Homo sapiens: one gene and its partners. The protein of the gene in region 1 purifies or fractionates together with the protein of each later gene. This does not show direct contact. Each region holds a gene or a part of one and is shown on either strand. Other genes may lie near its edges.

Evidence for each region.
Region 2: the proteins of ANAPC1 (region 1) and USP1 purify together in Homo sapiens (affinity purification with western blotting, with the first as the bait; one study listed by BioGRID). This does not show direct contact.
Region 3: the proteins of ANAPC1 (region 1) and NAP1L4 fractionate together in Homo sapiens (co-fractionation; one large-scale study listed by BioGRID). This does not show direct contact.
Region 4: the proteins of ANAPC1 (region 1) and KATNAL2 purify together in Homo sapiens (tandem affinity purification; one large-scale study listed by IntAct). This does not show direct contact.
Region 5: the proteins of ANAPC1 (region 1) and TRIM33 purify together in Homo sapiens (affinity purification with western blotting; 2 studies listed by BioGRID, with this or other methods). This does not show direct contact.
Region 6: the proteins of ANAPC1 (region 1) and CCDC13 purify together in Homo sapiens (co-immunoprecipitation; one study listed by IntAct). This does not show direct contact.

The regions. Positions count from the first base shown.
Region 1 is NC_000002.12:111,772,694-111,777,656, reverse strand, and holds part of ANAPC1 (anaphase-promoting complex subunit 1), read left to right. Parts: intron 1-599; coding exon 600-798; intron 799-4,963. UniProt on the Homo sapiens protein: Component of the anaphase promoting complex/cyclosome (APC/C), a cell cycle-regulated E3 ubiquitin ligase that controls progression through mitosis and the G1 phase of the cell cycle.
Region 2 is NC_000001.11:62,442,719-62,447,681, forward strand, and holds part of USP1 (ubiquitin carboxyl-terminal hydrolase 1), read left to right. Parts: intron 1-440; coding exon 441-601; intron 602-2,019; coding exon 2,020-2,711; intron 2,712-4,622; coding exon 4,623-4,793; intron 4,794-4,963. UniProt on the Homo sapiens protein: Negative regulator of DNA damage repair which specifically deubiquitinates monoubiquitinated FANCD2. Also involved in PCNA-mediated translesion synthesis (TLS) by deubiquitinating monoubiquitinated PCNA.
Region 3 is NC_000011.10:2,970,886-2,975,848, reverse strand, and holds part of NAP1L4 (nucleosome assembly protein 1-like 4), read left to right. Parts: intron 1-3,605; coding exon 3,606-3,747; intron 3,748-4,314; coding exon 4,315-4,401; intron 4,402-4,963. UniProt on the Homo sapiens protein: Acts as a histone chaperone in nucleosome assembly.
Region 4 is NC_000018.10:47,059,665-47,064,627, forward strand, and holds part of KATNAL2 (katanin p60 ATPase-containing subunit A-like 2), read left to right. Parts: intron 1-3,307; coding exon 3,308-3,406; intron 3,407-3,619; coding exon 3,620-3,697; intron 3,698-4,963.
Region 5 is NC_000001.11:114,503,720-114,508,682, reverse strand, and holds part of TRIM33 (E3 ubiquitin-protein ligase TRIM33), read left to right. Parts: intron 1-4,963. UniProt on the Homo sapiens protein: Acts as an E3 ubiquitin-protein ligase. Promotes SMAD4 ubiquitination, nuclear exclusion and degradation via the ubiquitin proteasome pathway. According to PubMed:16751102, does not promote a decrease in the level of endogenous SMAD4.
Region 6 is NC_000003.12:42,706,301-42,711,263, forward strand, and holds part of CCDC13 (coiled-coil domain-containing protein 13), read right to left. Parts: intron 3,499-4,963; coding exon 3,384-3,498; intron 2,840-3,383; coding exon 2,680-2,839; 3' UTR 1-2,679. UniProt on the Homo sapiens protein: Required for primary cilia formation and promotes the localization of the ciliopathy protein BBS4 to both centriolar satellites and cilia.

The DNA of each region.
Region 1 (4,963 bases):
ATGGTATCCACGCTGGCACTGCTTCTCACAGTGCCTCTTTGTATAGCAGCCAAATAACAAGTTGTGTTATTTGCTGGATGAGAATGTTGCTGGCTGAGAATGTGTCTTTTTACTCTCTGAACCCTCACACCTTTACAGTCATGGGTGGCAGGTCTTTATGCATGAATATCTTCTCTGGTTGCAGCTGTAGTGACTTGCAGATGGATCTCAAGGGCAGTATTATTAGTAGTGTTCTTCTTGCCCTCTACCCCCTGGGATCTCTGCCATGTCATTGTACCCAGCTCGAGTTTCCCAGAGGTGACTGGCTATGACCTTTTGGGTCTTGGTTATTCGGAGCTGTTGAGCCAAGAATGAGCTCATTCACCTTTGTTACTTTTCCCTGCAAGCTGCTCATGTAGGGCCATATTGAAGGAGGTGAGCCATGCACCTGTACCCAGTGACGGCTCCTCTGTGGGCAGACTGCATCAAAACACAGAATGGACCACCCCCCGACCCTTTATAATTCGGAGCCACATTTAAAAAATACTCAGTCTACAACTCTGATGAAGAGACAGAGCACTCTTTGATTAAATAGATTGTTGTCCTCTTTCCTCTTCAAGGCTATAAGAAGACTTGGGAGAAGAGAAATGTCTGAGACTTCTGAACTTTGGCAGATAAAGTTGGTGTTAGAGTTTTTCAGCTCCCGAAGCCATCAGGAGCGGCTGCAGAACCACCCTAAGCGGGGGCTCTTTATGAACTCGGAATTCCTCCCTGTTGTGAAGTGCACCATTGATAATACCCTGGACCAGTGGCTACAAGGTAATAGTAGCATTGTAGCATAGCGCTCTTGTGCTTTTGAGATACATTCGGTTCAGGCTTTTCTGTTGTAACTTTGTTTTTTCATTGGTAAGCAAGATAAATCTGAGTATAAGCAAGAATGGCTATAGATTTAACGTTTCCAGCTAGATGAATTAGACTTTGATTATCTACTTTAGCTTCTTTAGTAAAATACATCTGACCCAGGCAGATAATATTTATAGCATTTTAAATACCACTTGGTGCTCAGGACCTTGTTCTCTCTTCCCTAGCATCAGGTCACATTTCCTTTCCAGTGCCTCTGTCTCCTGTTTCCTAGGGGTGTGGCCTGTTGCCTTCCTGAGGCCAGCAGCCATCCTGTTTTTGTACTGGCACCACATGTACATGTAGAAGTTGACGTGTGCTTGCTGAGTGAGCTTGTTGTACCAACTCAGTTTTGAAAACCTGGGACCGCACAGCTATGTGATGTCACAGTGGTGGCTTTCTATCAGCAGGATTTGTGATTGCAAGGAAATTGTAGTTACTCGTTAACAGTGTAGAAGTGATTCTGACTTACATGAGGCAAGCGATGGGGCCTTTAGATTTATGGAAATGTATCTGTGTGTTAAATACACCTGAAACTGATTTTCAGGAGTAGACTCCTTGATCTTTTCATTCTTTTTAGTTCATTCAAATGCTCCCAGTAAATATCTGACAGTTGCTTGCTTTGGGTTAATACTAACCTTAGTAATAGTAGTAGAAACAATTCTTGCTTTGATTAGTGAAAACTATTAGTAATCAATAGACCCTAAGCGTTTGAATATAATTGAGTTTAAAACTATCCACCTGTAACACTAGGAAATAAATTTCTGAAAAAAATTAAATTGTAAACCAAGTTGTGAGGGATATACTTGGAAAGCCTGATTTCAGACTCTCCATGTTTATATTTAAAAGCTGCATTGTATTTGTCATTTCCTGTTCAGATTCAAAGATCATATAGCTTCATAATTTTTTGGATAGTCATTTTTATCCTCATTTTTGGGGAAAAACATGTTATTTCAAAGGTTTTCGTGTTTCGTTTTTATTCAATTTAACATTTGATCACCTATGGCAGACCTTTGCTATTGATAATAAATACTTCCTTAAATCTTTGCAGATTCCCTGATTTGCACATTTCATATAATGTATGGAACTTTGGCAGTGATTAGAACATTCTCTAAAACAGGGCCCTGATTGCCTTGTTGCTCTTTAGCGCATTTGGTGGTTTCCAGCATTGCTGTCAGCCTCCATTGAATTTGACTTGCCACACAGATTTATCAAAAATGTGTTTATTTTTTAGTGAAAAACTAGAATTTTTTTTAAAACAAAACCTCTTAAATATATAGTCTCCTCTCTTACAAGCACTAGCAGTTGGCTTTGGGGTAGAGAACAATAAATTAACTGAAAATTGGAAATTGCATTCATATTTGTGTGTAAAAATCACAGATGCATATGTGGACTTTCAGGATCACTCACTGACAACTCATTAGATCTGAGATAACCCATTAAATCACTACACTAATCTGAAAATGCAGCCAATTTATATTATATAAATGTCGGTTTTGTTTTTTCTTTCTTTGAGACAGAGTCTCGCTCTGTCGCCAGGGTGGAGTGCAGTGGCGCGATCTCAGCTCACTGCAACCTCCACCTCCTGGGTTCAAGCGAGTGTCCTGCCTCAGCCTCCTGAGTAGCTGGGATTACAGGTGCACGCCACCACACCCAGCTAATTTTTGTACTTTTAGTAGAGACGGGGTTTCACCATGTTGTTCAGTCTGATCTCGAACTCCTGACCTCATGATCTACGTGCCTTGGCCTCCCAAAGTGCTGGGATTACAGGCATGAGCCATGGCGCCTGGCCTATATAAATGTTTTGTACAGTATTTATCTCCTCAAATTATAATTTTGGGCAAAGAAAGCGGGTTTCAAGTTTAAGAACTTTAAAAAGTTTTATTAACTTTTTCATATTTTGTTATGGAAATTTAAAGAATATACAAAGTAAGTAGACTAGTGTAATAAACCACAACACCAATTTTAATAGTTGCCAGCATTCTCCTATTTTTGCGTCATTTGTACCTTCACCCATTGCCACACTCAATTTTCCAAATTGTGCCATTTTACTTTCCCACCAGCAGTGGATTGCAATGCAATTTTTGGCATTGTCCTTTTTTTTTTTTTTTTTTTTTAAGACTTGTCAAGTGCAGTAGGAAAGCAAAGTAAACCCAAAGCAAGCAAATAAAAGCAGAAACCAATGAAACCAAAAACAGATAAGCAATAGAGAAAATCAGTGAAACAAAATGCTGGTAGACATGAGAAAGTCATTGAAGAGAGGCTGAACCACCATGCTCTCCTTCATGATGAGCTGTTCAAAGAAGAATCTCATCTGTTCTCCCTTAACCTTTCTCCCTCTGCTGCCTCCCCCAAACCTAAATGTTTCCACCTCCCAGTAGACTGACATCCTCACAACTGTGTTCAGTGGAGTCTACAGTTTTCATCTCACTCCATCTCTACAATGGTGAGGCTTTTAGCTACATTTTCCTTCTTGAAATGAGCCTCCCTTGACTTTGTCATAGCACACTTTCCCAATTTTTAAAAAAAATCCTCTTTAAAAATTCTCAGTATTTGTCACCATTTCACTGTCACTCCTTTGTTGACCCTTTTGGAAGTCATCCTTGCTCCTTTCCCTCCTTCCCTTCTCTGCAATAGCTGACCCATTGCTGATGCCTTTCAATCCTCATCATAGATATTTCTTGAATTTGTCCACATTTTACTATTTCTACCTAGAACAGAATGATGATTTTGTGCCTGGACCACTGTTATAGCCTCCTAAATAGCCTCCTTGCTTTTTCTCATCTCCATTCCAACCATCTCAATTTAACTGACAGAACAGTCTTTTAAAGAATAAACTGATGTAACACTCCTGCTTAAAGCTTTTCAATGGCTCCTGATTCAGCTGTGAAAGAAATCCCTACTGTGTGGCACCAGGACCTGTGTGACCTGCAAGGCGCCTGTTTTCCTCAACAAAGCCTCTTTTACACCACTTGCTCCCCACACCACCCTGGCCCCTTCCACTTACTCAAAAACACTGAGCTCCTTTTCACTGTGGGGCCATTGAATATGCTGTTTTCCCTCCCTAGAACCTTTTCCTCTCATTCTTCACCTGCCCAACTCATATTTATCCATGCAGCCTCAGTTTTAATGGCATTTCCTCCCAGGCCTTCCAAGACCACTCTCCCTCAGGCAGCTTTCCTGACATCTTTAGCCTGCCCGCTCATGCTCTCTACCTTTTTTCTGTATCAAAATGCCTTTGTTTGCAAGTAAAAGAAGGCCTGACTTAACCTGCCTTTAAACAGTAAGGACACAAGTATGCCTATGTTATTAGAGGTCTGCAGGTAAGGCACGTAAAGGGTCATCTTTTTCCAGTGTCTTCAACTCCATTTCTCTGAGGTTCCATCAGCTACATTCTGTGCCATGACTTTATCCTCAGTGCATTTTTCGGATGGTAATCAAATGGCTGTAACATGTTCACCTCTAGCTCAGCATGATACTCAGAGGAAGAATAGAGTTGCTTCTAGGAGTTTTGTGATGAGAATGAGGGAATTTCTTTCCCTGGAGCCTCCAGCAAGCTTGTCATTAAGTACCTCCTCAGGTTTCTGGCTCGAGTTGCATCTCATGCACACCTCTCAATCTATCCCTGTGGCAGAGAATGTCTCTTATTGAAAAAATGGCCTGGGTCTGCCTGTCTCTGAACTAACACTGCATCAGGAGAATGGGATTGCCTTGATCACCCAAGATCAGTGATTCTCAAAGTGTGGTTTATGGAGCAGCATGACCTGGGCACTTGTTAGAAATGGAGTTTTTCTGGCCCCACCCCAGACCTACTGAATAAGAATCTCTGTGCTCTGTGCATGGAGTGGGGCCCACTCATCTGTGGTTTAACAAGCCTTCCAGGTGATTCTGGCACATGTTAAAGTTTGAGGACCCCTGGCCAAGACTAGTAAGGATCTAGTTCTGGAGCTGAAGTCAGTCCCATCAAATATAATATATGGTGGAGGGTAGGGTGTGACAAGGGGTATTTCGGGGAGACAACCACAGTGACCACTGCACCTTTATAGCACTCCTCACAATTTGTAATTATGCATTTGTTTGTGTC
Region 2 (4,963 bases), on another chromosome or scaffold:
ACCAGACGTGGTGGCTCATGCCTGTAATCCCAGCAGTTTGGGAGGTCAAGGTGGGTGGTGGATTGCTTGAGCGCAAGAGTTTGAGACCAGCCTGGGTAACATGGCAAGACCCTGTCTTTACTAAAAATACAAAAACTAGTAGGGCGTCATGGTGTGAGCCTGTAGTTCCAGCTAATTGGGAGGCTGAGGTGGAGGATTGCTTGAGCCCAGGAGGTTGAGGCTCCAGTGAGCCGCGATCAAGCCACTGCACTCCAGCCTGGGCGACAGAGACCCTGTCTCAAAATAAAAAAATAAAAAATAAGGCTTATTTGTACATCCCTTAAAATTAGTGCTATTATGCAACTTAGAAAATCTAGTATTCTTAAGTGAGACAAAGACAAAGGGGGAAGGTACTTAATTTGTTCATAAAATTATTGGTTTGTGTGTTTCTTTCTTGACAGGGAAATTGCAAAGAAGATTCTTTGGCAAGTTATGAATTGATATGCAGTTTACAGTCCTTAATCATTTCGGTTGAACAGCTCCAGGCTAGTTTTCTCTTAAATCCAGAGAAATATACTGATGAACTTGCCACTCAGCCAAGGCGACTGCTTAACACACTGAGGTATAGCCTATAATATAATTTTAGGGTTTCAATTTAGCTACTTGTTTATATCCTTGGAGGAGAATGACATGCGAAGAAACAGGAATAAAGGGCAAGGAAAGTAGAAACTCTAGGTCCACAGTCCTTTATATCCCAGAGACTCTGAATACTGGAAATTTTTTTCATAAATTTGGTGCTAAATTCGTTAGATCTGAACATATTATATGAGGCTTTTTATAGTCATTCATATTTATCTCTAACGTGAATATTCATACATGCTTCTATAGAAGTAGTAATGTGTTTAGTTATAGAGTACTCCCATATCAAGTCGGTGATAAATATTTTACTTATATGCCATATAATCATTGAATCTGAAAATGTCTGAATTTCTAAATGCGTGGTCCTAAGGATTTCACATTAAGAATTATAGGACTATATTCAAAATATGTGTAAGAACTGTAAATTCCAAATATTCTATTTTTATATGTGATTAGAGGAGAACTGTTGGCTAACTGGATTAGATTGCTTTTTGGTATTTTCTTAAAAATGAAACTTTACATATAAAATAGCCTTATTCAAATACAATTATAGGGCAAGTCTTTAAAACAATCACTTAAGCATTTAGTTTAAAAATAGAACTAGGTGCAATATATTGCTATACCTTAGTTAAGAGGTATTGTAGGCCGGTCACAGCTCACACTTGTAATCCCAGCACTTTGGGAGGTGAAGGTAGGTGGGTCATTTGAGGTCAGGAGTTCAAGACCAGTGTGGCCAACATGGTGAAACCCTGCCCCTACTAAAAATACAAAAATTAGCTGGGTGTGGTGGTTTGCACCTGTAGTCCCACCTACTCGGGAGACTGAGGCAGGAGAATCGCTTGAACCCGGGAGGCGGCGGTTGCAGTGAGCCAAGATTGCGCCATTGCAGTCCAGTCTGGGCAACAGATCAAGACCCTTGTCTCCAAAAAAAAAAAAAAAAAAAAGGCCATTGTAGCGTGGTGGCCAAGAGCGGGTTTGAATACTGGCTTTTCATCCTAAGTAGTTCTGTGACCTTGGGCAAGTTATTTAACCTGTCTGTGCCTTAGTGCTTGTATCTGTCAGTAATGGTGATAATAGTACCTCATAGGGTTATTGTGAAGATAATGTATACATAGGAGATAAAAAACATTTTGACTAAAACCTGGTGTATGGTAAGCATTATCTAAGTATTAGTTATTAATATATTTAGAAGAGGATCAAAGTATTATAATGAAAATAGGGTACAATTTACTCTTACTTTTAGTTACAGATAAGAAATTCCAAATTAGTGCTGAATAAATGTCTTGACATTTAAAAAATGAAATAATTTATGATTTTCCTTACATGAATTAATTTCTATATAGGCTTTATGTACTGTATCTTCAAAACTAGAATAGATGAAATGGAAATTTTTATTTATAGGGAACTCAACCCTATGTATGAAGGATATCTACAGCATGATGCACAGGAAGTATTACAATGTATTTTGGGAAACATTCAAGAAACATGCCAACTCCTAAAAAAAGAAGAAGTAAAAAATGTGGCAGAATTACCTACTAAGGTAGAAGAAATACCTCATCCGAAAGAGGAAATGAATGGTATTAACAGCATAGAGATGGACAGTATGAGGCATTCTGAAGACTTTAAAGAGAAACTCCCAAAAGGAAATGGGAAAAGAAAAAGTGACACTGAATTTGGTAACATGAAGAAAAAAGTTAAATTATCCAAGGAACACCAGTCATTGGAAGAGAACCAGAGACAAACTAGATCAAAAAGAAAAGCTACAAGTGATACATTAGAGAGTCCTCCTAAAATAATTCCCAAGTATATTTCTGAAAATGAGAGTCCAAGACCCTCACAAAAGAAATCAAGAGTTAAAATAAATTGGTTAAAGTCTGCAACTAAGCAACCCAGCATTCTTTCTAAATTTTGTAGTCTGGGAAAAATAACAACAAACCAAGGAGTCAAAGGACAATCTAAAGAAAATGAATGTGATCCTGAAGAGGACTTGGGGAAGTGTGAAAGTGATAACACAACTAATGGTTGTGGACTTGAATCTCCAGGAAATACTGTTACACCTGTAAATGTTAATGAAGTTAAACCCATAAACAAAGGTTAGTATAATTCTTAGACTTTGATAGGTAGAAGCATTAGCAGCTACAGAATTAGAATTTTCTCTTCCTAGATACATGTACAATATAATCTCTGGCTAAAATTGTTTCAAGAGAAGGAAATTTAACACTGAATGTGAACTATGGTGTTTTAAGTGCTATGCTTAGATTAGTGTGTGTGTATATATTGTATGCATATATATGTGTGTGTGTGTGTGTGTAATGTCATTAAAGTAATTTTAATTTATAGCTTATAAAGTAGGGAAGTTCGGCCAGGTATGTTAGCTCGCACCTGCAATCCCAGTACTTTGGGAGGCCTAGGCGGGCAGATCACCTGCGGTCAGGAGTTCAAGAGCAGCCTGGTCAACATGGTGAAACCCCGTCTCTACTAAAAATGCAAAAATTAGCCAGGCATGGTGGCGCACGCCTGTAGTCCCAGCTACTTGAGAGGCTGAGGCAGGAGAATCGCCTGAACCCGGGAGGTGGAGGTTGCAGTGAGCCAATATTATGCCACTGCACTCCAGCCTGGGGCGACAGAGCAAGACTCCGTCTCAAAAAAAAACAAATAATAATAAAGTAGGGAAGTTCAGTATATTTTAATGTACATTTAAGAGTACATTTCCCTTTATGCAGTGTTTGACATAAACTGATGAAGGACATTGCATTTAGTGAAATTTTAAAAGTAAAGACTAAGTACAGTCATGTGTTGCTTAACAACAGGGATATGTTCTGAGAAATGTGCTGTTTCATTGTGTGAATTTCACGGTGTACTTACACAACTAGATGCTAGAGCGTACTACACAACTAGCCTATATGGTATAGACCAGGGTATCTAATCTTTTGGCTTCCTTGGGCCACACTGGAAGAAGTGTCTTGGGCCACACCACACAGAATACACTAATGATAGCTGATGAGCCAAAAAAAAAAAAATCAAAAAAGTCTCATAATGTTTTAAGAAAGTTTATGAATTTGTTACGGGCTACAGGCAAGCTTTGCATGGCCTATTGCTCCTAGGCAACAAACCTGTATAGCATATAACTACTGAATACTGTAGGCAACTGTAGCACAATGGTATTTGTGTATCTAAGACGTATCTAAGCATAGATATGTAAACATAGGTACAGTAAAAATAATCATAGACTACTGTCATATGCGGTCCATTGTTAAATAATTGAAACGTTGGTAGGTGGTGCATAACTGTAAGTTACACGATACTTGAACTAGATTTTTACCTAGTTTTGTCCAGATCTACAGATATCAGGGAAAATGTGTAATATTGATATAGTGAATAGTTTTACCAAAAATGTCATCCTTATTCTGGGTTTATTCTATGGGGAGGTGTCTGTAGGAAGGGAGTTACAATACAACTGACTTTTTTTTATTTTTTATTTTTTTTATTTTTTTGGAGACAGAGTTTTGCTCTTGTTGCCCAGGCTAGAGTGCAATGGCATGATCTTGGCTCACTGCAACCTCCACCTCCCGGGTTCAAGCGATCCTCCTGCCTCAGCCTCCCGAGTAGCTGTGATTACAGGCATGCACCACCACACCCGGCTAATTTTGTATTTTTACTGGAGACAGGGTTTCTCCATGTTGGTCAGGCTGGTCTTGAACTCCGACCTCAGGTGATCTGCCCGCCTCAGCCTCCCAAAGTCTTGGGATTACAGGCTTAAGCCACTGTGCCCGGCCTACAACTGACTTCTTTTAAAGACAGTAATTTCATAGTCAGTTTTATCTTTACAGGGACCTTAAATTTCATTAATAGGGTACCTCTAATAAGCTAATAATGCTAATAAGCTGATCTATGAAAATGGAACTGTTATTCATGATATACTTTATTTAAATGGAAAATTGGTTATTTGGACTATAATGAGAAACTAATCTGTATAGACTTACATTTTCCTATTTTCATTTTAGGTGAAGAACAAATTGGTTTTGAGCTAGTGGAGAAATTATTTCAAGGTCAGCTGGTATTAAGGACGCGTTGCTTGGAATGTGAAAGTTTAACAGAAAGAAGAGAAGATTTTCAAGACATCAGTGTGCCAGTACAAGAAGATGAGCTTTCCAAAGTAGAGGAGAGTTCTGAAAGTAAGCAAAATTGGAGTCTTGTGTGGACCATGATGGAATATTTATAATTCTTTAACAACACAAAGTTTAATAGTAGCTGGTGTAATTAGGGAGGGGAAAAAAGCTAGCTTTTAGTGTCTAATGTAACCTTTCTGCTTATCTGGCTTCACTTATAAATGGTTAGCATTTGG
Region 3 (4,963 bases), on another chromosome or scaffold:
GAGAGTTTGCCTGGTGGATGGAGTAGCGTGACCTGTCAGTTCTGATAGGAAGTGCACAGTGCCATCCTGTGGAGGGCTAGAGGACTTCACAGATCATCTGAGTTGGAGAGGACAGCTGGTGGCTCCTAAGTTAAACTAAGAGAACCACTCCTTCCTGACTTACCCACATGAGCCTGTGACACCAACACCTTAAAAAAAAAAAACTGGGCATAGTGCCGCATGCCTATGAGTTTTCACTACCCTCCAGCCTGGGTGACAGTGAGACTGTCTTTAAGAAAAAAAAAAAGATGGGGTCTCACTGTATTTCCTAGGCTGGTTTTGAACTCATGGCCTCAATTGGTTCTCCCGCCTCAGCCTCTCAAAATGCTGGGATAACGGGTGAGCTACCGTGCCTGGCTGACACCTTTGCTTTCTTAAGAGAGGCCTATGTGCTAGATGTATTGCACTATGAAAATGATAAGGGTGGTGATCCTAGAATCCTAGGATGGCTCTTGTCAGGACCTCTCTTACTTCTGGAAGGAATTTTTGGTTTTTGAGTTGGAGTCTCACTGTTGTTCAGGCTGGAGTGCAGTGGCATGTAATAGTTCATTGTAACCTTGAACTCCTGAGCTCAAGTAATCCTTCTACCTCAGCCTCCAGAGTAGTTGGAACTATAGGCATGCACCACCATGCATGGCAATTTTTTTTTTTTTTTTTAAAGGGATGAGCTGTTACTGGGCTTCCATCTATAATTGGGTCAGGGCTTGGTCTCCCAGGAGGCCCCACCTTCCAGCTGGTTTCCCCAGTCAGGACTGCCAGGGCTATTACGACAAGAAGGGGACATTTATTTTTTATTTTTATTTTTTGAGACAGACTCTTGCTCTGTCATCCAGGCTGGAGTGCAACTTCCGCCTCCCGGGTTCAAGTGATTCTCCTGCCTCAGCCTCCTGAGTAGCTGGAATTGCAGGTGCACGCCACCACTCCCAGCTAGTTTTTTGTAGTTTTATTTATTTCACTGTACGTTCTGGAGTAGATGTGCTGAGTGTTCAGGTTTGTTACATAGGTATACATGTGCCATGGTGATTTGCTGCACGTGTTTTTTTGTTTGTTTTGTTTTGTTTTGTTTTTGTATTTTTAGTAGAGACAGGGATTTGCCATGTTGGCCAGGCTGATCTCCAGCTCCTGACCTCAGGTGATCTGCCCACCTTGGCCTCCCAAAGTGCTGGGATTATAGGCATGAGCCACTGCGCCTGGCCTAGAAGGTGACATTCAGAGTTTGCTTTGCCCATTTAGAAGCTTCTCAGAGATTACTTAGTGGGCAAGGTGTTTTGATGTTATTTTTTTTGCAGACTAGATTGATGGGATGGGGTGATACTGAGTGGGAGTGGCAAGAATGAGAATGAGTAATGGTTTCTAGTTTTCTCGCTTTAGAAACTGGGTTGGTGGGGTGGCATTCTGTGAGAGGAACTGCTTGAGTGGGATCAGGTTTATGTGGGACTAGAAGTGGTTCCATATTAGCCATATTGCAGGAAAAGTGCCGGCAGAGGGCTGGGTGTAGTTGGTGTGAATGATTGAAGGACTGTTGGGGGCACACTAGGGTCCAGTTTGTTTAACATCCTTTGTCTAAATGACGAGTTAATGGGTGCAGCACACCAACATGGCACATGCATACGTATGTAACAAACCTGCACGTTGTGCATTTGTACCCTAAAACTTAAAGTATAATTAAAAAAAAAAATCCTTTGTCATTTTACTTCAGTTGGAAAGCTTCAAAAATTAAACTAATTTAAAATTGTATAATTAGCCAGGCATGGTAGCTCACACCTGTAATCCTAGCACTTTGGGAGGCCGAGGCAGGCAGATTGCTTGAGCTCAGGAGTTCGAGACCAGCCTGGGCAACATGGTCAAACCCCTACTCTACAGGATGCAAAAAAATTAGCTGGGCATGGTGATGTGCCCCTGTAGTCCAACTATTCAGGATGCTGAGGTGGGAGTATCATTTGAGCCCAGAAAGTTGAGGCTACAGTGAGCCGAGATCGCACCAGTGCACTGCAGCCTGGGCAACAGAGTGAGATCCTGTCACAATAAATGAATGAATGAATGACCAGTGCAGAAAAGGGGTAAAAATGGCAGTGGGAGTCTACCATTTTGTTAAATTCTTTCTGCTTTTCCCTTTTTTTCATCTACTACTAGCAGTAGTTCTAGAATGTTAAGCATTATTTGAGAGTCTTTGCTTAAACTAAGGACCTTTAGCTTGAGGTAGCTGTGGTTGTATTTCACCCAGGAGAGTGGTCCTTTGGGATGCAAGGCAGTTGTTCTAATACCTCCCAGACCAGTGATATGTGTGTGTGACTTGCCTACTGCTCTGTGCTGTCTGTTGTTGGAGGGTAAGTCAAGTGCTTAGACTTGAAGACTCTGATTGTGTGAATGAGTATTCAAGATGCAGGACCCAGGGCCCTGCCCCAGGTAGATTATTTGGGTCTATGATGAGGCCAGGAATCTGCTGTTCAGTCCACATGATTGTGACCAGGGGCTTCGTTTTGAACAAATAGTTTTGATGGGTTAAACAAGGATTTTTCTTCTGATTTATAAAAGTTATACATAACAACTATTTTTTAAAACATAGAACAGAATTGAAAGGCAAACTCATAGTTGACCTGACTCTCCAGGACAAAGTTGTGTTGCCTGTGGTCTGTGTTTCTCAGATTTTTTCCTCCAGTGTGTTAACAAGTGTGGATTCCCACGTGGCACTAAATATTCCTGGACAGTGTGATTATGAATAGGCCATATTTGAATGCTGTTGCACTTGCATTGTCCAGTTTTTCACTTGTACAGATCTATCGACGGACACTCCAGCATAAATACTTGATTAGGATAAATTTTTTTTTTTCCTTTTGGTAAGATAGGGTCTTGCTCTGTTTCCCAGGCTGGAGTGCAGTAGCGCAATCATAGCTCCCTGCTGCCTTGACCTCACAGACTCAAGTGATCCTCCCACCTCAGCCTCCTGAGTAGCTGGGACTACAGGCGCACACCATCATGCCTTGCTAATTTTTTAAAATTTTTTTGTAGAGAGAGGTCTTGCTGTATTGCTCAGGCTGGTCTTGGAGTCCTGCCCTCAAGCAATCCTACCTTGGCCTCCCAGAGTGGTGGGATTACAGGCATGAGCCACTGCGCCCAGCCTTAAGGATAAATTCTTAGAAATAGAATTACTGGGTCCAAAGAACATTTTCAATATTTCTGCCCTTCAGAAAGATGAGTCAGTTAGAGGGCTTCTTGGCCCTTAGCCTCGTAAAACCTGGGTGTTTTGTTTTGGTTTTTAATTGCCAATTTGGTAAGGAAAAGCTGAGTGTTCTTAAATGTTTGCATTCTTTTGGATATTTTATGAAATTGAATCTTTCTTCATGTTTGACAATTTGTGTTTTTTCTTTTGTGAATTATTTTTTCTGCTTCCTCCTGTATCCTTTTTTTCCTGTTGGGGTATTGTCCTTTTCTTAATTTTTAAGAGGTCTTGTTCATAGTAAGGATGTTGATTCCATGTTAACCTAAATTTATTTTAATAAAATTGAAAAGCATGCTGCTTTATTTTGCAGGCATGAGGATGTTGTATTTCTTACTCCCTTTTTTAGTTTACCTAAAGCAGTAAAAAGAAGAATTAATGCATTGAAACAACTTCAGGTGAGATGTGCTCACATAGAAGCCAAGTTCTATGAAGAGGTACATGACTTGGAAAGAAAGTATGCAGCGCTATACCAGCCTCTCTTTGACAAGGTAGGGAGCTCTGTTAATTTAATATACAGATAGTTTTCAGCTTACGAAGGTGTTAGGTTCCGATAAACCCATTATAAGTTGACAACATCTAGGGTAAGAACGCATCTAACCTGCCAAACATAGCTTAGTCTAGACTACCTTAAACAAGCTCAGAACGCTAACATTAGCCTGCAGTCAGGCAAAATCATCTTCCACAAAGCCTATTTTATAATAAAGTGCTGAGTATCTCGCGTAATGTATTGAACCCTACACAGAGAGAGGAACACAGTGTGGCTGTATTGGTGCCCAAAGTGTGATGGCTTCTGCACCATCAGGAAGTTGAAAATCTTTAGCTGAACCATTGGAAATCGGGGACTGTCTTTATTTTACATCTTTAGGTGAAACATCCAGGTTTACCCAGGGAATCATTTAATATTTTTCTTTGAACCCTAAAATTTAGAATCTTAAAATAAGTTATAAAAATATCCAGTTTTCAAAGTCTTTTAGTAGACATTATTTATAAATTTAACTCTTGAGTTCCTAAGTAAGCTAATAACATAATTCTAATAAGGTCTCATTTTTATGTAGAGAAGAGAATTTATCACCGGCGATGTTGAACCAACAGATGCGGAATCGGAATGGCACAGTGAAAATGAAGAGGAAGAGAAATTGGCTGTAAGTCTTTAGAAACATGTGACTCATGTTCTGTTTTAATACTGTTAAAAATAAGCATTTTTTAATGATTTTTAATGACTAGTAAACTTATGTGCTTCTAACAGTAGGTGCTGCTGCATCATTAGGTTGGGTTTAGATTCCTTTCTGATATGGATCTAGCATCTGACACAGTACTGTCAGTTAATAGGAGTAAGATGTAGTGCCACCTCAGTTATCTGTGGACAGGAGCATATTGAAATAAGGGATCAGACCAACAAAGATTAAAACATCAGAGAAAGCAAAGATGAAGAAGAGATGCCCCTGTGTTCTCAGTCACTGGAAGATTGGGGGAGTTGTGAGGGGAGTGCCTTCCTGCTCAGTGGCATGGACTAGCTTGCCCCCTGAGAGGTGCTCCGCCAGTGGATTGGTTGCAGATGGTGGTTGTGGTGTGGCCATCAGTCACCTGCTCACAGCCTTTTTCTAGTGACTGGTCCCATTCCAGTGCTGTGAAAACTCCCAGTGTACCATGGATTAACTTTGTCAGCCTGATTTTATGTTTGGGAGACAAGTAACTTTTATCCTA
Region 4 (4,963 bases), on another chromosome or scaffold:
CTCATGAACCTAACACTGAAAGTGGTAATTTCTTTTTCCTTTTAAACATGAAAACAAAAAACATTATTTTTGTCAAACAGGAAAGTTAAGATGTGATTTTTGAAGGTTGGCTGTGAGGTAAATGGAGAAGAGCGTCAGAAAATGGGTTCTTCTTTGGAATCTCCTTTCTGAATGAATGGGCTGGCATGAACTGCCCCATCTCTAAGGAACTCAGTTTCCACATTTGTAAATTGAGGGGCTTGGAAGAGATTGTCTCTAGTGTTCCCATCAGCTTAAAAATTCTGTAATAACAATGACAAACATTGGCATGATCATCCTGCATCGTTCTCATCATTTTTTTTTTTTTTTAAGAGACAGGGTCTTGCTCTGTCACCCAGGCTGGAGTATAATGGTGCAATCATGGCTCACTGCAGCCTCAAACTCCTGGGCTCAAAGAATCCTCTTGCCTCAGCTTCCCAAGTAGCTAGGACTACAGGCATGCACCACAACATCCAGCTAATTTTTTTCATTTTTCTAGAGATGGGGTCTCACTATGTTGCCCAGGCTGGTTTCAAACTTCTAGCCTCAAGCAATCCTCCTGTCTGGGCTTCCCAAAGCGCTAGGACATCTGCGTTATTTAGTGAGTTGGAAACGCATACTCATTCTGCTCTGTCCTGTCAGTGGCATTTGATTAGTGGTGTCACCTTTCTCCTTGGAGGGATGGCTCCTGGTCTAAATGTAATTTCATGTGGACCATGAAACATCAGTTGATACAGGGTTGATTTTGTCCTTGATAGATATTTTTACCTTTTTCATAATGAATCTCATGTCTAGATTTCTAAATAATAATGTCTTAAGCAGAAAAGACCCAGATTGGGTGGATGTAGTCAAAAGGTAGATTAAAACATGTAATTTGGAAATGAATTGCACCATATTGCTCTTGGTCATACTCTCCAAGGTTGTAGTTCTTTAAGCTTCTTCTTTCTTCAGCCAAGTGCTCAAACCTCTGGAGTGCTGACTTAGTTCTGGCCAGCTCTTAGAAAAACTGAACTCTGTGTGTGTGAATTTGGAGGGGTGACTGGAGCATATCCCTGAAAATCAAGAGCAGTGACCTCACTGGCCTGAACTGACTCCCTTTAAGGGCCTCACTTACATGGTAATTGCTGAAGATGATGCCATGGGAATCAACACCTCCCTTGGAAAAATGTCTCCTTGTTCACCTTCACTGCTTCTATTGTGTTTTCAGTCACCTTTGCCTAGCTTTTTTGTGGCATAAGTTTCTCTTGTGAATGCCTCACATTGAAATGAATGGATGTTTTTGATTGGGTCACAAGGAAGGGACCATTTAACCCAGCACTTAACCTTTGAAATAGTCTGACTATAAATCCTCTTACCAGCAGAAATGTCCTCAAAGGCACAATGTAGATGGCTTTCTCCCTAGCATTTCATATGTCCATAGGTTGTATGAGGGTATATGGCCTGGGGCCAATCTCAGAAAACCCCAGGTCTGTCATTTCTATGTTAGTACCTGTGTTTGTCTGTTTTGCATTGCTATAAAGGAATACCTGAGGCTGAGTAGTTTATAAAGAAAAGAGATTTATTTGACTCATAGTTCTATATGGCACTGGGATCTGCTCAGCTTCTGGTGAGGCCTCAGGAAGCTTTTACTCATGGCGGAAGGCAAGGGGACCTGGCATGTCACATGGCAAGAGAGGGAACAAGAAGGGAGGGAGATGACCTGCTCTTATAAACAACCAGGTCCCTCGTGAACTAATAGAGTGAGAACTCACTCATTACAGTGGTGAGAGCACCAAGCCTTTCATGAGAGTTCCTCCCCAATGACCCAAACACCTCCCACCAGGCCCACCTCCAACACTGGGGATCACATTTCAATATGAGATTTGGAGGGGGCACACATCCTTACTACATCAGAATCCAAGCTTTAGGACACCCTCCCTGCAAATTTAGTAGGTATGTTGTTCTTGAGGGCATAGGCTTCAGAGTCAGCCTGTCTAGATTCAAAACCTGGCTCAGATGCTCCCCCACTATGTAACTTTGGGCAAGTTGGTTAAGTTGTTTTATAATTTCTCCAAGCCTCATTTCTCTCATCTGTAAAGTGGAAATAATCATAGCGTCCCCTTTAAGTCTCATGATGAAAGGAGAGCCTTGGTGCAGTGCTAGCACATAGTAAACACTCCATAAATGTTAACTATTATTATTATTTTTTTTTTTGGTGCATCCTTGCTTTTTCCTTCCTACCTCTAGGGGGGACAGGGTGATATTGGAAGGATCATGGGTTGGGAGAGAGATTAAGTGGGTTTAAATCCTGGCCTTAAGCCATTTATTAGCTGTGTGGCCCTGGGCAAATTACTTAACCTCTCTGGACTTACTCCCACATCTATGAAGCCAGGATGTCACTCCTGACTAACAGAAGTGTTATAAGAATTAGAAGTAGGCTGGGTATGCTGGTTCGCACCTGTAATCCCAGCCCTTTGGGAGGCTAAGGTGGGAGTATAACTCGAGCTCAGGAGTTGGGAGACCAGCCTGGGCAACATAAAGAGACCCCACTTCTGCAAAAAAAATTTTTTTAATTAGCCAAAAGTAGTGGCGCACATATGTAGTCCCAGCTCTTTGGGAGGCTGAAGTGGGAGGATCCCTTGAGCCCAGAAGTTTAAGGCTGCGGTGAGCTATGATTACGCCACTGCATAACAGAGTGAGATCCTGCCTGTCTCTTAAAGGAAAAAAAAAAAAGGATTAGAAATAATCCTCACAGGATATGGAGAAAAGGGAACTCATACATTGTTGGTGGAAATTAAATTAATTACACTTATACCCAATAAATTTATACAAATTATATACAAAAATAACAAAAAAGAAATAGTTCTCACAAAGAACCTTTCACACTTATTTTGTACCCAGCACTCTATTGAGTGGTGAACGTGTATCACAATCCATAGACAGGAACTCTCATTACCATTGTGCCAATGAGTTCTTTCTGCATGTGTAATATTTTAAGAGGATAAGACCATACAGGGGAAGTCAACATATAAGGGAGGAAGCAGATGGTCTGTGTCAGGAACTGAGAAATACTCATGAATTTTTATTCAAATCCACTTCATTCTGGAAAATGTACTTACAATTTTTTAAGGTGCTCCAACTTGAGGAAATCATCACGTTTAATACTAGTGCTGGTTCTTTTTAAAGCTTAACTTGAAGTTTGCCCTATATACCAGGGTCTATAAATGTGTCTTGGTTTAATGAAACTGAGTTATTAAGAAGAGTCTTCTCTTATGTTCTCATGGCATAAATAACCATTCCTCCCTTTCAGGGCCAAATCATTGACTTCCAAGGGCTGCTCACAGATGCCATCAAGGGAGCAACCAGTGAACTTGCCTTGAACACCTTCGACCATAATCCAGACCCCTCAGTAAGTGGCGAAGATGTGACATTCATCTTTCAAATTGCCAACATCCAGATGAACTCTGGAAATATAATTTTGAGTACAGTGAAACCTTGAGATCAAGTTAAAGGCCATAGCCACCTGCCATCGTTTGTTTCACCAAGACCTGTGCATGCCCGGGGTTTCTTCCTAAATTATGAAGCAATATTGTAATGTGAGCCTTTCCGCTCCTCTCATCAGGAACGACTGCTGAAACCTCTGAGTGCATTTATTGGCATGAACAGTGAGATGCGAGAATTGGCAGCCGTGGTGAGCCGGGTAAGATCTGATATTCAATTCACAAATTTATGGAGGCAGGCTGGGGCTTCTGGAGCTTTGTGGGCTGCTTCTTTTATTAATAACAATAAATATGATCATTTATTTATAAAGTGCCCCCACTTGCGCAGGCACTCATATTGTTTAGAGGCACAATAATGCATGATAAATAAATTATAGAGTCATAAAATTACAATATACAAACCCCACCATCTCATGATAGAGGCCAAGAAAACCAAGAGAGAAAAAGACTTAGGAATGAAGGGACAGGTGAAAGGTTTTATAGCAGAGCCAAGAGTCAAGGAAAGAAAGCCTCTTAAAGAAGAAAAGAGTATGTCTGCATCTGGTTTAAAAAGTCAGAGCCTAGAAATAGAGACGTCGGGAGTCTGATGATATCATCATTGAAAATCTCCATGAAAAACACAATTAGCAGGAAAGACTACCATCCAGACTACGGACTTTTCCAGCTTGCACTGTGGAACCAGAAGGCAGTGAAGAACAGGCTTTGGAATTAGCTGACCTGCCTTTGATTTCTAGATCCTTCTCTTGCTAGCTGTGTGACTTTGGGCAAGTTCCTGGGAAATAAAATAGATTCCTGAGTTATAGGGTATTTTTCTAATTTCTATTGCTTCATATTTAATTGAAGACTGAAACCTAGGCAGGCTCAGAGGGGGGTTTAAAATGATCCCCAAAATTCACAGCTCCTCTGAGAAGCTAAGGGCTCCTGAGCTGTCTCTGTTCAGCTCAGCAGTTGTTTCCTGTATGCCTCTTGTGTGTCAGGTGTGTGCTGTGGGCTGGAGACACAAATGTGAACGAGTCAGAGCATAGTCCTTGCCCTCAAGAGTTTCTCATCCCAGGGACAAAGTGCACTTTAAGAGCATGAAGGAGGGAGGGGTGGGGAAAGTGTTAGGAAAGAAGACAGGAAATCGCTAAGGGAAAAAGTGGAAGAGGGAGGCTAGGAGCTGTTCTGGGCATAGGCACTTCCATGAGAAATTGCAGTTTGTGCACATGTCCTGTGGGCCACCTAAGAAGCAGGGAGTGGTGGGGAACGGGTGGAGAGAGGCAGGGTTCCTGAGGAAGGGTGCTGTGAGCAGTACCCAGGGCTGAGAACACACCTATAGAAGAGGGGACCTTAGAAAGGCGCCCGTCGGAGGATGGGATCATCCCATGTGCTTGTGGATGGCTTGTTCTATGACAGTGAGATGAATGAATAGCAAAGAAAAGGAGATGGGGAGACCATCTATAAGGTTTTTACCAGTGAGAGGGGAT
Region 5 (4,963 bases), on another chromosome or scaffold:
TTTTGTTTGGTGGATGGCAATGCTATTAATACATATTCAGACACTGAAGCAGGGCTGGGGTGAGGGTGAGGGCTGGGGTGTAGGGAGGATAAAATGTTTTCAGATTGGGATGTTTTGGGTTTCTAGCATTATTGGTACATGTAGGTAAGAATGTTAAGAGTAAGGCTTTGGTTGTTGGAGAAGCTACTAATTGTTAGTAGGTGTTCAGAGAATAACTGCTGGTGGTCTGTGCACCCATGACCATAGTAAGACACATAGGATTCAGTGTTCTTGTGGGAACCTGGGTTAGGTAAGAGATTTAGAGGGAACCCAGAAATACAGATTGTGTTTGACTGATGTGGCTGAGGGACTGAGGTTATGAAATTGGCTCTCTGAAATTTATGAAGGAGAGAGAATAATATGTAAATCCCCTCTTCATTTCTTTATCCTTTCTTTTTGAAGGAGGGGGAGTAAGTGGAAGGGACTAACCAAATGCTGTCAATCTTAAGTAATATTTCTCTCTAACCAATATCTAAAACAAATTGAGTCTGGAATCCACCATGTTTTTGATTAAAAAAAATTTTTTTTTGAGACAGTCTCGCTCTGTTGCTCAGGCTGGAGTGCAGTGGCTCGATCTCGGCTTACTGCAGCCTCTGCCTCCCAGGTTCAAGCGATTCTTGTGCCTCAGCCACCCAAGTAGCTGAGATTGCAGGCGCATATCACCACGCCTGGCTAATTTTTCTGTTTTTAGTAGAGACGGGGTTTTGCCATACTGGTCAGACTGGTCTTGAACTCCTGGCTTCAAATGATCTGCCTGCCTCAGCCTCCCAAAGTCCTGGGATTACAGGCATGAGCCACTGTGTCTAGCCATCCACCGTGTTTTTAGATAGTCTAGAAAATAATTTGTCAGTATTAACTCCTATATACCATTCTGCTTTGCTCTTTAAAAAGATCAAGCTGTGCTGGAAAGAGCACTAGATTGGGTGTTAGGGGACATAGTTCAGCTCTTTAGCTATTTTACGCTAAAGGAAGTTCATACTGTTTTTGTCCTTCAGTTTCCCTTTAAAATGTAGCTGATAGTCGTTTACTTATATCTCACCAAGGCAAATAATAAATGTGAAAATGCTTTGTAACTGAGAAATGCTTCAACAATACAGGATATTATTGATCAACCTCAGATATCATCTCTGGTCTGGAGATCATAGCTAGTGGTTTTAACTCACCATCTTTTTCAAGTGATTTTGAAACAATGATGAGTATAATGCCCTCCTGCCTAACTGGCCTTTTCCTGTTTCTCTTAATACATTTATTCACACCCTCTGGCTGTTCTTTCTAGATCAACAGTTCTCAGAGTGTGGTTCCTGGATCAACAGCATCAGCATCATCTGTGACATTGTTAGGAATACAGATTCTTGGGCCGCATTCCGGACCTCCTGTCCAGTAGTCTCGTTTAACAAGCTCTCCAGGTGATTCTGATTCACGCTTAAGTTTGAGAACCACTGTCTTGAATGAAGGGCTCTCACTTCAAATGTCTCCTCAGACTTTGACTTCTCATTTTAAAGTAGTCCTCCAGGTCGCTCTCTGATAGATCATCTTATTTTCTTTGTAGCACAGCTAAAATCCAAAATGTTTATTTTTGTTTACTTGCCCGTCTCACTTTGCACTAGGATATTGTAGACTGTTCAATAAATAAGTTTTGTGTAAATAAGAATCACTAGAGAGCTTATTAAAATGCTAACTTGGGAGTTTCTTCAGAGACTGGTTTAGTTGATTTGGTGATGACTCCATGTGCCTGCATTTTTAACAGGTGCCCTGTGATTTTGATGCTGGTGGTACCACCACACTTTGAGGAACACAGATTTAAATATTTTGAGGAGAAAGTACAATCTGTTTACCGTTGGAGTATTTGCAAAATCAAAATAGATAAATTAGTTAATATTGAATCTCAATAGTGAGCTTTTTAAAGTGTTTTTGTGATTTTTTGGGGGGTGCTTTTTCAGGTTGAGGCAGAACAGCTATCAGTAGTGGGTATATATACATTTATACTTTATCAATAAAAATACAGATTTGCTACTCAGGAGGCTGAGGCGGGAGGATAACTTGAGGCCAAGAGTTCAAGATCAGCCTGAGTAACATAGCAAGACCCTGTCTCTCAAAAAATCTTTTTTTAAATAGGAATCATATTGATGCATCTGAACAAACTCTCAGATGAACTCTTGAAGGAGATGAGGCTACCTCTGAGATGGCACAATGATGTGGCTGAAGAAATGAATTGGTATTAAGTTGCATTGGGTTCTGCTATTTTTTTTTTTTTTTTTTTGAGACAGTTTTTTACTCTTGTCACCCAGGCTGGAGTGCAATGGTGCGATCTCGGCTCACTGCAACCTCCACCTCCTGGGTTCAAGTGATTCTCCTGCCTCAGCCTCCCCAGTAGCTGATATTATAGGCACCCGCCACCATGCCCACCTAATTTTTTGTATTTTTAGTAGAGACAGGGTCTTGTCATGTAGGCTAGGCTGGTCTCGAACTCCTGACCTCATGTGATCCACCTGCCTTGGCCTCCCAAAGTGCTGGGATTATAGGCGTGAGGCACCACCTGGCCTCGGTTCTGCTGTTAGTTAGCTACGTAACCCTTGGGCAAGGAACCTAGGAAGTCTCTCCAGGTCTTGCAATACGAAGAGGCTGAGTTCCTATCCCGTTAGGTTATATGATTCTATTGTCTTTTATGCTAACATTCTGTATGTACATACGTTTAATGTCCTTATAGTTTGTGGGGAGGAATAGTGGAATCACCATGGAAAAATCATTCTGTTACTGAATTCTTCAACTTACTGTGGACTGGGCACAGTGGCTCATGCCTGTGATCCCAGCACTTTGGGAGGCCGAGGCGGGCAGATCGCTTGAGGTCAGGAGTTCGAGATCAGCCTGGCCAACATGGCGAAACCCTGTCTCTACAAAAAATACAAAAATTTGCCAGGCGTGGTGGCAGGCACCTGTAATCCCAGCTACTCGGGAGGCCGAGGTAGGAGAATCACTTGAGTCTTGGAGGCGGAGGTTGCAGTGAGCTGAGATCACGCCACTGCACTCCAGCCTGGGGGACAGAGTGAGAATCCGTCTCAAAAACAAAACAAAACGAAACAAAAAAACTTACTATGAAAAGTCTGAGATGGCAACAATCATGTGTAAGTGGGAGGGAAAACCTCTGAGTGTAGTGTGAAGAGCACTTCCTCATAGTGTTTCTGTCTGTTTATCACAGACCATGCTGAGCCACTCTGAGGAGTCTTCTGTTTGAGCCCTCGGAATTTCTTGTCCCTGGAGTGTGTATACTATATGACAGTTCTGGCCTCAGTGTGACTTAACTGGTTTGGGGACTTTTTAGGCTCTACTTTTTCTGACTCTCCTCTTCAACAGAAACAAGCTTGAGTGTTTGAATGATCATGTGGTACTCCACCAACAACCAGTCATTAACGATGTGTCCAAGATTGCTGAAATACTTCTCACAACTTCTGTCTAGCATTGTGGTCAAACTACCTGAATTCATTTTTGAGCTCTACCATTTACTACTGGAATGACCATGGATAAGTTACTTAACATCTGTAAATTGGGAGTAATAATTACACCTACATCATAGAGTTTTTGTGAGAATTAAGAGAGTTAATGTGTTGCAAGGTACATTTATTGGGAGCTTACATGGGAAGCCCCCAATAAATTGTAGTAGTGTTATTTCGGTAATTTTTCATTTGTCCCCCCGTTGTCTTTGTGACTGTATCTCACAGCAAACAGAAAGAAGAGGCAGGGGGGTAAATTGTGGTTTTAAAGGCTTTTCTGATGTCTACTGATATGTACAGCATGCATGATAAATCATTTGAGTTCCAAATCTTCTAGTTACCTAGATCTTGTAAAAACTTATAAACTAATGTCCTAAATCCTAAGTCTTTATAATGTCTAGTATTTGTACATCAAAAGCCCTAGTTAGGGGACTTTAATTACTTTTACTTTTCTCATGGATTCTGCTGTCAGTGGGTCCTAAATGAGAATACCTTAAAGCAGTGATTCTCAAAGTGTGGGCCACAGAATGCTGGGGTGGGGGTGATGGTAGTGACCGTGTCACTGAGACCCTTTTAGAGGTGCACAAGTTTAAAACTATTTTCATAATTACACTAATTTGATATTCTCCTTATTCACTGCGCTGACATTTATATTAATGGTGCAAAAGCAATGATGGATAAAACTGCCATCACCTCTGCGTGAATTAAGATGGTGAGTGACTCCATTTGGGAGGCCGAGGTGGGTGGATTGCTTGAGTCCAGGAGTAGGGGACTAGTCTAGGTAACATGATGAAACCCTGTGTCTACAAAAAATACAAAAAAATTAAATAGGCATGGTAGTGCGTGTCTGTAGTCGCAGCTACTCAGGAGACTGAAGTGGGAGAATTGCCTGAGGCACGGAGTGTCGAGGCTGCAGTGAGCCATGATTGTGCCATTGTACTCCAGCCTTGGCAATGGCGTGAGACCCTGTCTTTAAAAAAATAAAAAAAATAAAAAAATAAAAAAAAAGGATAATGGCTCCAAGCCATACTATAAAAGTCATTGCATATTTACTTTCACACACTTAGAGAAAGAACAAAAATAAACCTATGTCATTGTCACTTAATATCCTTTATGAAACAGTAACAATTACTATATTACATTTTGATCTTTAAAGCTCTGTGTGATGAAGTGGGAAATGTGCCTAAAATGCTTCTGCTGCGGAAGAAAGTGGAAGAAGAGTACTTGTGCAGTTTTTTGAGTTCCAAGCTGAATTTGCTTTTTTTCATAGAAAACTATTTTACTTGAAACTATGGTTTTACTTAAAAACTATGGTTTTTAGGCATGGGTATTTGGCAGCCATTTTCTCAGAAGTGAATGAATTGAGCCTGTCATTTCCAGGAAAACAACTGACATATGTTGCCAGTGATAAAAATTGAGATTTTAAATGAAAATTA
Region 6 (4,963 bases), on another chromosome or scaffold:
GCAGAGGAACTGCTCAACAAGTTCTGGTTGAACAAATGGAGGGAACACTAAGAGCGAATAATTATTAAGCGCTTACTGTGTGCGAGCAGCTGCTGTAAGCAATGGACACTTTATCTCAGTGAACCCTGCAGAGGGTTCCAATGAGGGAATGGAGCAGACCTGATCTAACCAAGCTAGGGGTGGGGAGGTGCCCGGTGGTAGGTGCCAGCAGACATGACAGGCACTCCCGCACATGGCACCACAGCAATGCTGTCAAGGTTGCCCGTGGAATCTGAAAGCTGAAACACTCATCTTTATATACAGAGTTGGCCAAAGCAAGACACCAGCAAATCAGTTTACCCAAAAATGTGCAAACAAGATTTCCTGTGCCTGCCTGTCTGCAGTTTTTCTTTCCCCTCTCTCTTATATAACTCTTGTTGAAATCAGTCTATAGATACATGTTCCTTGTACAGAAATAAACAGAGAGCTAATAATTAGTGAAACGTCTTTGGGTTATTCTTTGACATACATATTAATAACAGCCCCCTGAGGGAGGATTCTATTATTGTCTGCATTTTATAGATGAGAATGTGGAGGATCAGAGAGGTTAAATAACTTGCCCAAGGCCACACAGCTGGTAAGTGGGGAGAGAAGTATGCCCCAGGCAGCCCCACCTGTCCAGACTCCATGACCTAATGCTCCTTCCTTTCTCAGGCATAGCCCAGGAAGGGCAGCAGAACCACCCTGAAGTGGCTGGAGTGTGGGTCACACCATCTCTGCACTTCCCTGAGGTGATCTTGAGGAAGGATGGCTGATCCTATGCCTGCTTCTCACTCCCTGGGACTGCACTGAGGCCAGAGCCTGTACCCCTCATACTCAGATCACCCTCTGGAGCTCCTCAGGGCCTGCAGGAGAAGGTGCTGACTCCTCTGTGTTCAGACTCTACATCCAGCCCACCCCTCGCTGTCACACACTGTCCCCTCCAAGCACAGACCCTCTCTCTCCTGGCTCTCTGCCTGGCCGTTTTCCTTCACAAGGAACCAGAGAAAAACTCTTCCTTCCCAGAGACCCTTAGGACCCCACCAGAATCATCAGTTCATCCCGGTGGCCTTTGCTCTAACTTGCTGTGGGATCTCTAGATCCGTGTGACCCCATGCAGGGTCAGGGGCTCCCTGAGGAGTGGGGGCCAGCTAGGGTCCCTCCATAGCCCCATCCCCAAGGAAGGGGCTGAGAAGACAGGGTCCCAGGAGCCGCAGTGGCTTTTCCAAGGAAGGAGCTGACAAGATGCTCGCAGGAGCCCCAGTGGCTTTTCCTGGGGAAGGGGGTGTTTTCACAGTATGTGCACCTGCATTTGTGCATCACTGCACAAGCAACACACAAGTGGCTATGTCTTCACGTGTGGGAATGTGTGTCCACATCCACATGTGTGTGCTCATCTGCACCTGTGTGTCCATGAGTGTGCACACATGGAGGTGCCTGTGTGCACGTACAGTTGCATGCTCCTGAATTGAGGTATGTGTGTGCATCTGCATCTTTGTGTGGGGCTGTGGGTGCACCTGTGTGGCCAGGGTGTCGGAGTTGGGGTGTGTGGCTATGAGTGACCCTCCTTGGGGCCACTCCTTCCTGTAGCTATAAGTGCATAGTTACAGCTGAGAAAGGGCAACACTGACAGTCATAGAGGCCTGCGGATCTTAGGGTGCCCCTGCAGCATCCCTCCAAGTTCACCATGGCGAGGGAGGTGCACTGTACCTTTGACTGGAGCCACTACCTCAAAACCCTTCTGCCTGAAGCTCCAGCTGAGCCCCACCTCGGCCCTCTGCCACCAGCATCCATCAGCAGTCTTGGTGAGCAAACAAAGATGCCTCTTGGAGCTGCTGCCTAGGGGTGGGGTTGTTCAGTGGTGGGTGGGTGCGCCTACCCTGGGTAATCTCTGAACGGCAAGACCCTGGTTTTGGGGTCAGGCAGACTGCAGTTAAATATTAGCTCAGCTTCTTTCTGTGAACCTCAGTTTCTTCATCTGTCAAATAAGACAACAAACCCCTGGGTCATTAGAGGACTGAATGGGGTCAGGTTGCCACAGTAGATGCTCACTCACTGGGAGCTGCAGTGATTATGAAAATACTTATTATTATTACAAGTCCAAGGGTCTGCACCTGAGGAAGTGTCCTGAGGAGTGGGCTGACAAACTGGTTGAGAGCATAGTGCCCCAAGTCTGTGTAGGGTGTGGACGGCTACAGATGGAGCCGGGATGGGGGTGAGGGGATAGGGCAGGGCTGAGTGGCATGGGGGATATGCCCACTTAGGGTAACCAAGGGCTCTTCTGTGTGTGAAGCCATGGGGACATCCAGGGCTAGTACCTAGGATGAGGGCGATGAACACCTGCCCGAGGGACTGCATCTGTCCATTCACAGCCGCCTTGCCATCCCAGAGCTCTCGCCTCTGCCAGTGGGCTGCTGGGCCTCCCTGCTGCTGTAACCCAGCCAGCCCAGGGTCTCCTGCAGTGTCCCACCAGGGCTTCTCTTCTGCCTTCCTGGCCTGAGACATTGGTTTTGGTCATCCTTAAGGAGCCTCTTCTGGTAGAAGTGGTTGAGCTGGCTGCCCTGGGCTGGCTTCCCGGAGCAGATGGAGTCCTCAGACAGAGTCTTATCCTCTCAAGACCTGAGGCTGCCCACCCGGCCAGGCCGACACTGGGCTGTCATCCTATTGCTTGCCTGTCTTCTGCTGCCGCAGGGCCTGCAGGAAGACACTTTTCACCTGGCCCAGGATCTCATGGTACATCCGGAAGTCCTCCTCCTTTCCCCGCAGGGCACTGCCCAGGGCAGCCTTTAGCATTTCATTCTCCTCCACCTGGATGGCCAGCCTGGACCACAGGAGACAGTGCTCAGTGTGGCTGGAGCTGCACACAGGTGTGCGTGGGTGACAGAGGGCCCTGGGAATGTGGTTGCCAGCATGGCTGCTCTTCAGGCTCAGGCTTCCCTCTGACCCATCCCCTCCTCTCACTGACTCTTGTGGGTACCATGGATTCCTCTCTATGGGCCTGGCTCCCTGCAATGTAAGCTACCTCAAGGCCCCTTACAAATTGAGTTCCAATTTGTAGAGGTTCCCGTCTTTCCCTTCCCATGGCTGCGTGGGGTCTTAAAAGGTTTAACGTAGTGAGAAACTGGTTCAGTGATCCATGCTTGATAAAATTTCTCTTGGACTATGGGTCATTGGGGTTTGGGCCGGGCCCTCTGTCCTCTGAAGGCCAGTCCCTGAATTGCAGGCCTAGAACCCAGGACCAAACAGGACAAGCCTTCTGGGCAAATGAGTCAAAAGTGCAAGGGGAGGGACACAGTCCCTCTGCCCATGGAGGCACCTCTGCTCAGACAACCCTACCCTTTCAGGAAGGCGGGGCAGGGGAGCACCTGGTTGTCAGCTCTTCCATTTGGGATTCCACGGGCACATCGGAGAGCTGGGCAAAGGATGGGTCCTTCTTCTCGCTCCCGGTTGGGTTGTGCCTGTTGTTAGAGGTGGGCAGACCTGTGGGGCAGCAGCAACCACTTTCTGTGAGGAGGCCACAGCCCTGTGCTAGCACCCTGCTTCTCCTCCCGCCATTGCCCACTGCCTGCTCTTCCACATGGTGAAACGCTACACCGCCTTCGGGGTGCAGGGCAACTCTGAGCTCTGCCTCCCTCCGAAGCCCTCCCTGATGCCTCCTCTGCATGCCTCTGCCCCTGGCTTTGGCCTCTGCTACAGCCCTGACTCTGCTCGCTTTGTACCAGGGTGGTTCCTCACCACCCTGTCTCCATCTTTATACTTTACAAGTTTCTGGTAATTTGTTTTCTTTTTTTTTTCTTTTTTTTTTTTTTGAGACAGAGTCTTGCTCTGTCACCCAGACTGGAGTGCAGTAGCGTGATCTCAGCTCACAGCAATCTGCGCCTCCAGGGTTCAAGCGATTCTTGTGCCTCCCGAGTAGCTGGGACAACAGGTGCCTGTCACCATGCCCAGCTAATTATTGTATTTTTTGCAGAGACAGGGTTTTATCATGTTGGCTAGGCCTCCCAAAGTGCCAGGATTACAGGCGTAAACCACCATGCCCAGCCTGGTAATTTGTTTTCAAAAAGAGAAACCAGCTGAGCCTGAGGTCTGGCCTGCAGGCTGAGCCCGAGTCTAGACTGTCACTGTACCTGATGCCCTCATACCAGTGGTCCCCATCCAGGCCATCAGCTTCATACTAGGAAGCAGGGGATCCAGGGTCCTGGAGTTGAAGGGTACAGAATGTTCACAAAAAGGAGACAAAGTGGCCCACGGTGGGGTGGTCCCAGAACTTTGGGAGGCCAAGTGGGGGCAGATTGCTTGAGGTCAGGAGTTCAAGACCAGTCTGGCCAACACGGTGAAACCCTGTCTCTACTAAAAATACATAAAAATTAGCCAGGCATGGAGGCATGCACCTCAAGACTAGTCTTGTGTAAACCTGTCTCATTGCTGGGGAGGCAGCAGAGTGGCTCTGCCCTCTACAGGGGCTGGACTGAGTGTTCTTCAGGGCCTTTCCTGGCTCCAGGGGACACTGCTAAGCTGCCCTTGGCTTATTCCACGCATTGAGCACCTCCACATCCCCAACTAGAGCTGCCCTGGATGGGAAACTGCTTGTTCAGCCTGATGGAATTTTCTAAGCCCTGTGACACAGGGAATCAAAAAGAGCCTCAGCCGGGTGCGGTGGCTCATGCCTATAATCCCAGCACTTTGGGAGGTCTAGGGGGGTGGATAATTTGAGGTCAGGAGTTCAAGACCAGCCCGGCCAACATGGTAAAACACCATCATTACTAAAAATACATAAATTAGCAGGGTGTGGTGGCGAACCCCTGTAATCCTAGCTACTTGGGAGGCTGAGGCAGGGGAATTGCTTGAACCAGGGAGGTGGAGGTTGCAGTGAGCTGAGATCGCACCGCTGCATTCCAGCCTGAGGGACAGAGTGAGACTCTGTCTCCAAAAAAAAAAAAAAAAA